Linked DNA regions of Homo sapiens: region 1 is linked to region 2. The links come from fine-mapping of genetic effects on gene expression. A gene starts in region 2. The other region holds a variant in brackets. All regions are shown on one strand. Distances are between the middles of the regions. Region 1 overlaps GNB1 (G protein subunit beta 1). Region 2 holds the start of NADK (NAD kinase).

Region 1 (4,389 bases), 39 kb before region 2:
GCCAATATGGTGAAACCTCATCTCTACTAAAAATACTAAATTAGCCGGTGTGGTGGCACACGCCTGTGGTCTCAGCTACTCAAGAGGCTGAGACGGGAAGAATCACTTGAACCTGGGAGGCGGAGGCTGCGGTGAGCTGAGATCGCGACACAGCACTCCCGCCTGGGCAAGACAGAGCGAGACTCTGTCTCAAAAAAAAAAAATAGTTGTGATTAAAAAAAAAATTATACCAACACTCAAACTTTAAACCTGTTAGCCATTGTCTTATTTTCCTTCATGTTACGTACCTTTCTATTTCTAAACGTACGTTCTCTTTTGAGATTTCCAGGTCTATTTTCTAGTAACTTTGATCCCTTAGTAATGAAGACACTTGAGTTAGCATTGGTGGATCCCTTCACAGTGCCTACCTGCAGCCGCAGGTCATTTGTAGATGAGCAACGAGAACAGCCAAGAGGCTCATGTACATCTGATTGTCTGGCTCCAGGTCCCTTGCTCGTTTTCCATAGAATTTATTTATTTTTCTTTGTTTTCCTTTATTTTATTTTATTATTATTTTTGTTTTTTTTGAGATGGAGTCTTGCTCTGTTTCCCAGACTGGAGTGCAGTGGCGCAGTCTCGGCTCCCTGCAACCTCCGCCTCCCGGGTTCAAGTGATTCTCCTGCCTCAGCCTCCTGAGTAGCTGGGATTACAGGCGTGCGCCACCACACCCAGCTATTTTTTGTATTTTTAGTAGAGATGGGGTTTCACCATGTTGGCCAGGCTGGTCTTGAACTCCTGACCTCAGGTGATCCACCCACCTCGGCCTCCCAAAGTGCTGGGATTATAGGTGTCAGCCACCACACCCAGCCTATTTTCCTTAAATTTTTAATTTTTATTTTTAGTAGAGACAAGGTCTCACTTTGTTGCCCAGGCTGGTCTTGAACTCATGGGCTCAAGAGATCCTCCTGCCTCAGCTTCCCAAAGTGCTAGGATTACAGACGTGAGACCGCGCCCTCCATAGAATTTAGAATTAATGATTGTTTCTCTTGAAAACAAAGTACTTAGTTAATGCAGTCTGAAGAAAAGTTTTTTTGGGCTGGGTATCTGGTCCTTTTTAGACTTTTTTTTTTTTTTTTTTTTTTTTAATAGACCTTTTCTTTGGGCCACAGCCTTCCTGACCCTAGATGGGCTTTGTAAAAAGAGCAAGTCGTGTGTGCCAGCCTGTGCAGCAGTGAGGGCACAGGCAGCACCAGGGTCCCGGGTGTGTGGGTGCTGCCCCAGCTTGCAGTGTGGTCTCCTCGGTGCTGGCCACAGCTGTGGGTCCCCAGGAATATTGTGCTGCAGGTCTTAGACAGATTTGGGTACTACTGGTTCTCTGTTCAGCGTGGCCTGGACAGTCCACAGATGGTAGTAGACCATGGGGTGTTGAGATGCAAGGAGACTCTGCCGTTCTTTCACATTCTGCTTTTGCTCCTGACAGCTTAGGAAAGCTCTCTTTGAAACTTTGGTATGTGTGGACCTGAGATTGAATGTATCTGAAAGGTTGCTAATTTCTCACTGTCCTTGCTTCCCAGGACGCCAGGAAAGCATGTGCAGATGCAACTCTCTCTCAGGTAAGAGCCCACTGAGTCACGCAGAGCCATCTGCCTGTGAGGAGGCTAGCACGGCACCCACACCTGGAGCCTCGGGAGGGCTCTGCTTGCATTCTCTGTTGCGCAGTGAGGATGCCAAGCCACTGCTTTTATTAAGAAGTCATTCTGATGGTAGGCATAGGAAATAGAGGGGCTTATTGAGATAAAAATGAGATATCTCAAGCCTTGAATAATCATCTACCTGTTACAGAGGGTAATAGTTGTAAAATATTGTTATTGTCTTAAGATATTTTGAAGCTCCTCTCCTCAACAGAATCTGCCTCAGAACTTCTATTTCTAATATCCAATTTGATAATACCTCAAAAAGTTAAACATAGAATTATTGTATGACTCAGCAGTTCTGCCATTAAATATATGCCCAACAGGATTGAACACTGCTTTTCAAACACACACATGTACATAGCAGCACCATTCACAATAGCCAAAATGTAGAAACAACCAAAATGTGCATAAATGAATGAGTGGAGAAACAAATTGTGGTGTCTCTGTGCCCTGGAGTATTATCAGCCATTAAATGGACGTCAGTACAGTCAGAGGCTGCAACGTGGATAAACCCCATAAATATTACGATAGTGAGAGAAGCCAAACAAATGGCTATGTATTGTTTAGTTCTATTTATATGAAATATCTAGAATAGTAACATTCACTGAGACAGAGTGGACTAGTGGCCAGCAGGGGTGTTAGGGGAGAGAGGGAGAGGAAGTGAACAGGGAGTGACTGCTGAATCAATGTCTGGTCTCCTTTTGGAAGATGGTTTGGAACTAGATGGTGGCAGTGGTTTTACAAC[AATG/G]AGTGTACTAAATGCCACTGAACTGTAGACTTTAAAGTGATTAATTGGATGTTACGTGAACTTCACCTTATTAAAAAAATGAAGTCCATCCCAGCACTTTGGGAGGCCGAGGCAGGTGGATCACTTGAGGTCAGGAGTTCGAGACCAGCCTAACCAACATGGTGAAACCCTGTCCCTACTAAAATACAAAAATTAGCCAGGCATGGTGGCACACACCTGTAATCCCAGCTACTCAGGGGGCTGAGGCAGGAGAATTGCTTGGACCCGGGAGGCAGAGGTTGCAGTGAGCAGAGATCGCACCACTGCACTCCAGCCTGGGAGACAGAGCGAGACTCCATCTTAAAAAAAAAAAAAAAAAAAAAAGATAATAAAAATAAAGTCCAAATAATTGGACAGAAATGTGAAAGAAAAACTATATTCCTACTTCTACTGAAGATGATTAAGTTTTTTACATTGTCTAAATGCTTTAGGGGATGTGCTTTAATTGAGGTTAAATTGTAAGTTAAAGAAAAAAAAATTAGGCTACATAGAATTACCTGAATTTCAATTCTGAGAAGCACTTTGGACTGTCCGTTTTTAAAACCCACTATTGTAATCCACTTACTCCGTTTGCCAACCTAAACTCATTAACATCAGTGTCTATATGTAGGATGGGCTCAGCAGGTGTGTGTACAGCTGGTGCTCCAAGTGATGGTCGTGCAGAAGCAGGTGTCATGCAGGCCCACACATAGCCTGACATAGGAACCAGCTATTAAATTGTGGTGTGGGACATCTGTGTGGTGTCATAAGAAGAGTTGCGAGATCTCAAAGAACTCAGAGACCTAGGAGGAGATGGTCCTGGATGGACAGGGAGAGGAGGAAGGAAGCAGGAAGGGAACAGCAAGTGCTTCAAGGCTGGCCATGTTCGTGTGCGTGCATTGGAGGGCAGGGCACACAGGTTCCTGATGACCAGCCAGACTGAGACTTGGTAAGAGGTACGGAAGGGGTTCAGTGCAGAATGCCACAGTGGAAGCCACTGGAGAACTGTGGGAAGGGCTGGGAAGAGGTAGGCACAGTGGGCGAGCCAACAGCCTTGACAAGGATGGGTGATGAGGAGAATCGTTTAATCACAGATGTTGATTTACAGAAATGTTTTTATTTTCAAGATCACAAACAACATCGACCCAGTGGGAAGAATCCAAATGCGCACGAGGAGGACACTGCGGGGGCACCTGGCCAAGATCTACGCCATGCACTGGGGCACAGACTCCAGGTAGGCGTGGGCATGAGCAGGATGCTGCTTGTTACATTCAGGGGCTGCTCTGTTGTCCTAGGGGAAAAGTACCTGAACCCATTTGCTGTGCTGTGCAGTGAAGAAATTAGGAAGTTGAATCAGAACTCTGGGCACGCAAGGTGCAGCGTTCACAGGTGCATATTCCCTGTCCAGTTTTCCACTTACCTGGGCTGAAAGAACACTGCCATTTCTTCACTGTCTGAATCACATTAATACAAGTTCTGATTTTTCTTTCTCCCTTCTCCTGTCTCTTTCAGTTTCTAGACCTCTGTCTTCCCAGTTCTACTGCATCCTACTTATGTGAACTTGGGGAAGTTACCTCTCTGTGCCTGTTTCTCAGGGCTGGTTGGCCCTCGCCCTCTTGTGATGTCAGTGCCCTGGCTCAGGAAATCACAGAACCTGCCCCGAGGATCCTGAGGGATTAAGTGTATTGAGCCTTAGAACAGCATTGTGCTGTGTGTGCTTTGCTGCGGCAGACACACGGGAATGCGCTGTGAGCTGCTCTCACCATTCTCTCATCTGGCCTGTCTGCCCTGCCTTCCTTTGGTTTACCATCCCAAGAGATAATTCCCTTCATGGGCTCCTATTTGTTCTTTTCTTTTCTCTTTTTTTTTTTTTTTTTAAAGACGGAGTCTCACTGTGTTGCCCAGCCTGGAGTGCGGTGGGGCAATCTCGGCTCACTGCAAGCTCCGCCT
Region 2 (4,389 bases):
AGGCCTGGGGTGAGGTGTGGGTGTGAGATCTTGGCCCCTGAATCTTCAAGGTCATATCCGGGGCCTGCCCTGAGAAATTGCACAACCTGTCAGCTGAAGGAAACCACAGCCCTGGTTTTGTTTTCTCATCTCTGAAACAGGGAAGCTCTCCTGCAGGCAGTGCCCAGGCCCAGGGTAGACAAAGGGTTTTCATGCCACAGACGGGGCAGCTGCTGGAGCTCCCTACACAGCGGGACACGCGAAGGGCACCTGCTGTGTGACCTGGGGCCCACGACAGTCACTGGTTGCCTCTGCAGAAGCAGTTGACTGCCTCCACTCTAGAAGATTCTACTGAGGCCTGGCTCAGTGCCTGGCTTGTGGGTGCGCCATCTAGATCAAGCATTATTATGCTAATGATCATATGCAAAAACTCAGCTCACGCATTATTATGTTAATGATCTTATCCGCCCCCTCTCCCCCCGCCAAAGAAAAAGAACTGGGCAGCTCAAGGCCGCTTCTGTGGGTGTGGCTGGTGGTCACTTTGAAACAGTTGGGTTTGCAAAATAACCCCGGGAGAAGTTACAGAGCTTAAGAAATCCCCCAAGTTCTCATGATCCTTGCTTCCCTTTCCAGTCACCCTTGGTGCCCTGTACTTCACTGTGGTCCTGAACTGAAGAGCTGTGTTTTTCAGGAAGACTTGGCCAGGCCGTGTTCCGTGTCTCTGGATTCAAGTCCCAGGAGTCCTGACCAGAGAGCAGGTATGCGGGTGTGGGGAAGGGCTGCAGAGGACTCAGGTCCACACCGACCCTGGGCCAGGTGATCACACAGAAAGTATAGACAGGGACTGAACCTCAGAAAACAATGGCTGGGCCAGGTGCAGTGGCTTACGCCTATAATCCTAGTACTTTGGGAGGCCGAGGCGGGTGAAGTTTGAGACCCAGCCTGGGCAAAATGGTAAAACCTCATCTCTACACACACACACACACACACACACAAATATATATATATATGAATGAAGTAGTCGAGTGTGGCGGGACCTACTTGTAGTCCCAACTACTAGGGAAGCTGAAGTGGAAGGATCGCTTGCACCTGAGAGGTCAAGGCTGCAGTGAGCCGTGAGCCCGCCACTGGACTCCGGCCTGGGGGACGAATGAGACACTATCTCAGAAAAACAAAACAATGTCTGGCACCTGGGGGACCAGCAGGTTAGAGCAGCTGGTCGTGCATTGCCAGTTTACCTGACAGTGACTCGAGAGCTGAGAACTGGGTATAGGGCACATTATTGGGATATTTGAGGCCTGAAGGCGCTGATGAGCAGCCACCAGTTCAGCAAGTGCGGGCTGGGTGGGACCCGCAGTTCCAACAAACACTACAAAGTCCGCTCCTGTGGCTTTGGCCTCCTCCCCCAACTCCCCGAGTCCTCCAGCCTGTGGGGTGCGCAAAACACGGCTCCCTGGTCCCCCTAGAGGTGCCCCAGGCCACCGGGTCCTCCCTCCACTGCCAGCCTTGGGATCCCAAGCGTAGACCTCTGAGGACGTTCGTGGGCGTGCAAGGCGCACCTGGCCGCTAGAGGTGGGCGTGAGGCCGATCGCGGTTCCCCCAGGCGCAGGGCCGCCCTCCCAGCCCCGACGGACAGCCCCGAGGGAGCGCAGCGCTGCCGCAGCTGCTCTAAGTTTCGGTTCCCAAATCCGGCTCGGCCCACACCGTGTCACAGCCCGGTAATTAGGGAAGCGGCGGCGGGCGGGGCCAGCTCTCGCGGGGCACCTGCACTCCCCTGAGCCGGCCCACGTGGTCCGGGAGGTCCCGCCCGCGGTGGCGGTGAGTTGGGGGCGGGACGCCGGGCTGGGATCACAATGTCGGGGGCGCCTAGGCGTAGACGTGGCGGGCGGACCCGGGGGCGCCCTCCGGACGCGGCAGGTGAGTGGGGACGGGAGCCGGGGGCCGCCCTCCTCGGGGCGCCGACCCCCGCCTACCCGAGTCGCGGACGCCCGCCCCTGTCCCCGCTGCCCGCCTCCACTCCCTGGTCACTGCTCTCCACCGCGATTCGCCCCTCTTCCCCACCGCCCGCCTCTTTCCCGCCACGCCCGCCGCCTCCCGCCCGCGCGGGGTGTCCCGGCGCCGGTGGGACCCGGCAGACGCGCGGGACGCCCCACGTGCGCGGCAGCGCGCATGCGTGGCGGGTGCGCCTGCGCAGTGGGCGGGCGCGGCGCATTGCTGCTCGGCGGCGCCGGCGCCGGGGTCCGGGCGGCCATGGGGCAACAGGCGGCCAGGGCGCCAAGGGCCAGGTAGCGACGGCTGGCGGCGGCGCGGCGGCGGGGCCTGCGGGCTCGGTCCGGCATGTAGACGCCCCCGCAGGCGCCCGCGGCAGCGAACGGTGAGTGAGCAGACCCGGCCTGCCGTCCGCCTGGGGTCGCCCGCTGCCTGGGGTCATCGCTGCCCGCGAGCGCGCGGCCAGGCGGGGAGACACCAGGCCGGCCCTGCCCATCTGGCCTGCTGAGGAGGCCGTGGAAGTGCTGACGGGCCACCGCTCCGTCCCGAATGGGGCACCAGCACGGCCCAGGGCGAGGCTCGGCCTTGGGGACGGGTCTGAGGGAGGCCGCTGTCCGGCCTGGCTCTCCCGGGCGGGGAAGGTGGGGCCGTCCAGCCCGGACCGCGCTTGTCAGTCGCCTCTGCTTGGGCGGCCAGGTCCTCGGTGTCCGGCCTTCCGTGGGTGGTTTCAGCAAGCAGGAGGGGTCTTTGACTCGTGAAAGCTTAGAGGGGCCCAAACCTAGTGGGAAAGTATGAATAAAAGATTCTATACAGCAGTATTGGCATGGAATTCTCTAAAAACACATCTCTGATTTAGTGCCCAGTACTTGCCAGAAAATTCCAATAGTCTATGGTGATGTTCCTACAGGCGGCTGCCATCCAGTAGGTCAGATGTCAGCACCGGCCTTGAGCTCTAGGTCGTCGTTTTTTTTCTTAATTGTGGGAACAGGGCGTGCCCAGCTCCGAAGGCCTGGTGGAGTTTTCCTTCCCAGGCCAAGGACCACCCCCACCCTCCCATCCCTCCTCCCCAAGCAATGAGATTCCTTTTGGCTTCGATTCCGAGTAACAAGTTATTTTTCCTTTCTTGTTTTGGAACACACTAAGTTTTACATTCAAAAGTTCATTATTCTTGGCTCTTGATGGGAATACATTTCAAAACTCTTCTCTTCTTGTGTTCCATGTCTCTCTGACAGCCTTAGTTGGCCTGAAACTGACATGTTTGCCTTAATAAGTTTTTTTTTCCTCCTGATGTCATCTTGTCTAAGAAGCTAGTTACTTTAACACCTTGTTAGATAATTCCCTTCAAGTACTTATTCCCCTGAACATTGTCCTCTCAAGCCTCTGGAAATTTCCTGTCCCCTTGGAACTTCTCTGTAAGGCCTGTTTGCTCTCAGCAGTGACTTCACTGGGACTTTTGCAGCCACTTTATGGTGTTAGCACGCTGATTCCAAGCTACTTGAGGAATCACAGGTGCCACCGCAGTACCCAACAAAATAGCTTCATCATTTGGAGGTGTCCTCTCGAGATGTTTCTGTGTGTATATGTGTGTGTATGTTAGAAACAGGGCCTCACTCTGTCCTCCAGGCGTGTTTATGGTGGCATGATTATAGCTCACTGTAACCTCAAATTCCTGGGCTCAATTGATCCTCCCACCTCAGCCTCCTGAGTAGCTGGGATTACAGGCCTGCACCACCACACCTAGCTGATTTATAAAATTTTTTGTAGAGATAGAGTCTCACTGTGTTGTCCAGGCTAGTCTCAACCTCCTGGCCTCAAGAGATCCTCCTGCCTCCACTTCCCAAAGTGCTGATCTTACAGACGTAAGCCACTTTGACCAGTCTTTTTTTTTTTTTTTTTTTTTTAAGACAGAGTCTAGCTCTGTTGCCCAGGCTGGAGTGCAGTGGCACAATCTCGGCTCACTGCAACCTCCACCTCCCGGGTTCAAGTGATTTTCCTGCCTCAGCCTCCTGAGTAGCTGGGATTACAGGCGCCCACCACCACGCTCAGCTAATTTTTGTATTTTTAGTAGAGACGGGTTTCACTGTGTTGGCCAGGCTTGTCTCGAACTCCTGACCTCGTGATCAGCCCACCTTGGCCTCCCAAAGTGCTGGGATTACAGGTGTGAGCCACCACAGCTTGCCTCACTTGGACCAGTCTTTTTGTTTGTTTGTTTCATTTGAACTTGGAGGTGGGTTTATGTTGTTTCAGTTGGCAGCCTGCTGTTTGGTTCCAAAACAGCATTTTCTTCTTGAAACAACTGCTGTCAGCAGTTAGATTTCCAGGCTAGCACAAAAACCTGTTTGACTCATAAATCCTTGTAGTGAGGGTGTCCCAGAAAGTTGGCCAAGTCAAGAGCAGTTCTTGTGGAGTGGAGGCGGTGAA

What was found. PIP is the estimated chance that this variant, and not a neighbour inherited with it, causes the effect.
Region 1: its variant is the best candidate, but not a certain one, in a credible set for the expression of NADK in whole blood (TOPMed, PIP 0.51).

What each region holds. Positions count from the first base shown.
Region 1 is chr1:1,815,040-1,819,428 of GRCh38, reverse strand. GNB1 (G protein subunit beta 1) reads left to right here. Exons shown (of 12, transcript NM_002074.5): 4 at 1,554-1,592; 5 at 3,567-3,673. Among named protein-coding and RNA genes, the nearest start is that of NADK, 39 kb to the right of the region's middle. The variant AATG/G (reference allele first, on the strand shown) is at 2,419.
Region 2 is chr1:1,776,253-1,780,641 of GRCh38, reverse strand. It overlaps NADK (NAD kinase), which reads left to right and starts at 2,172. Exons shown (of 12, transcript NM_023018.5): 1 at 2,172-2,353. RefSeq lists enhancers at 1-66, 77-146, 157-216, 227-396 and a silencer at 1,457-2,656.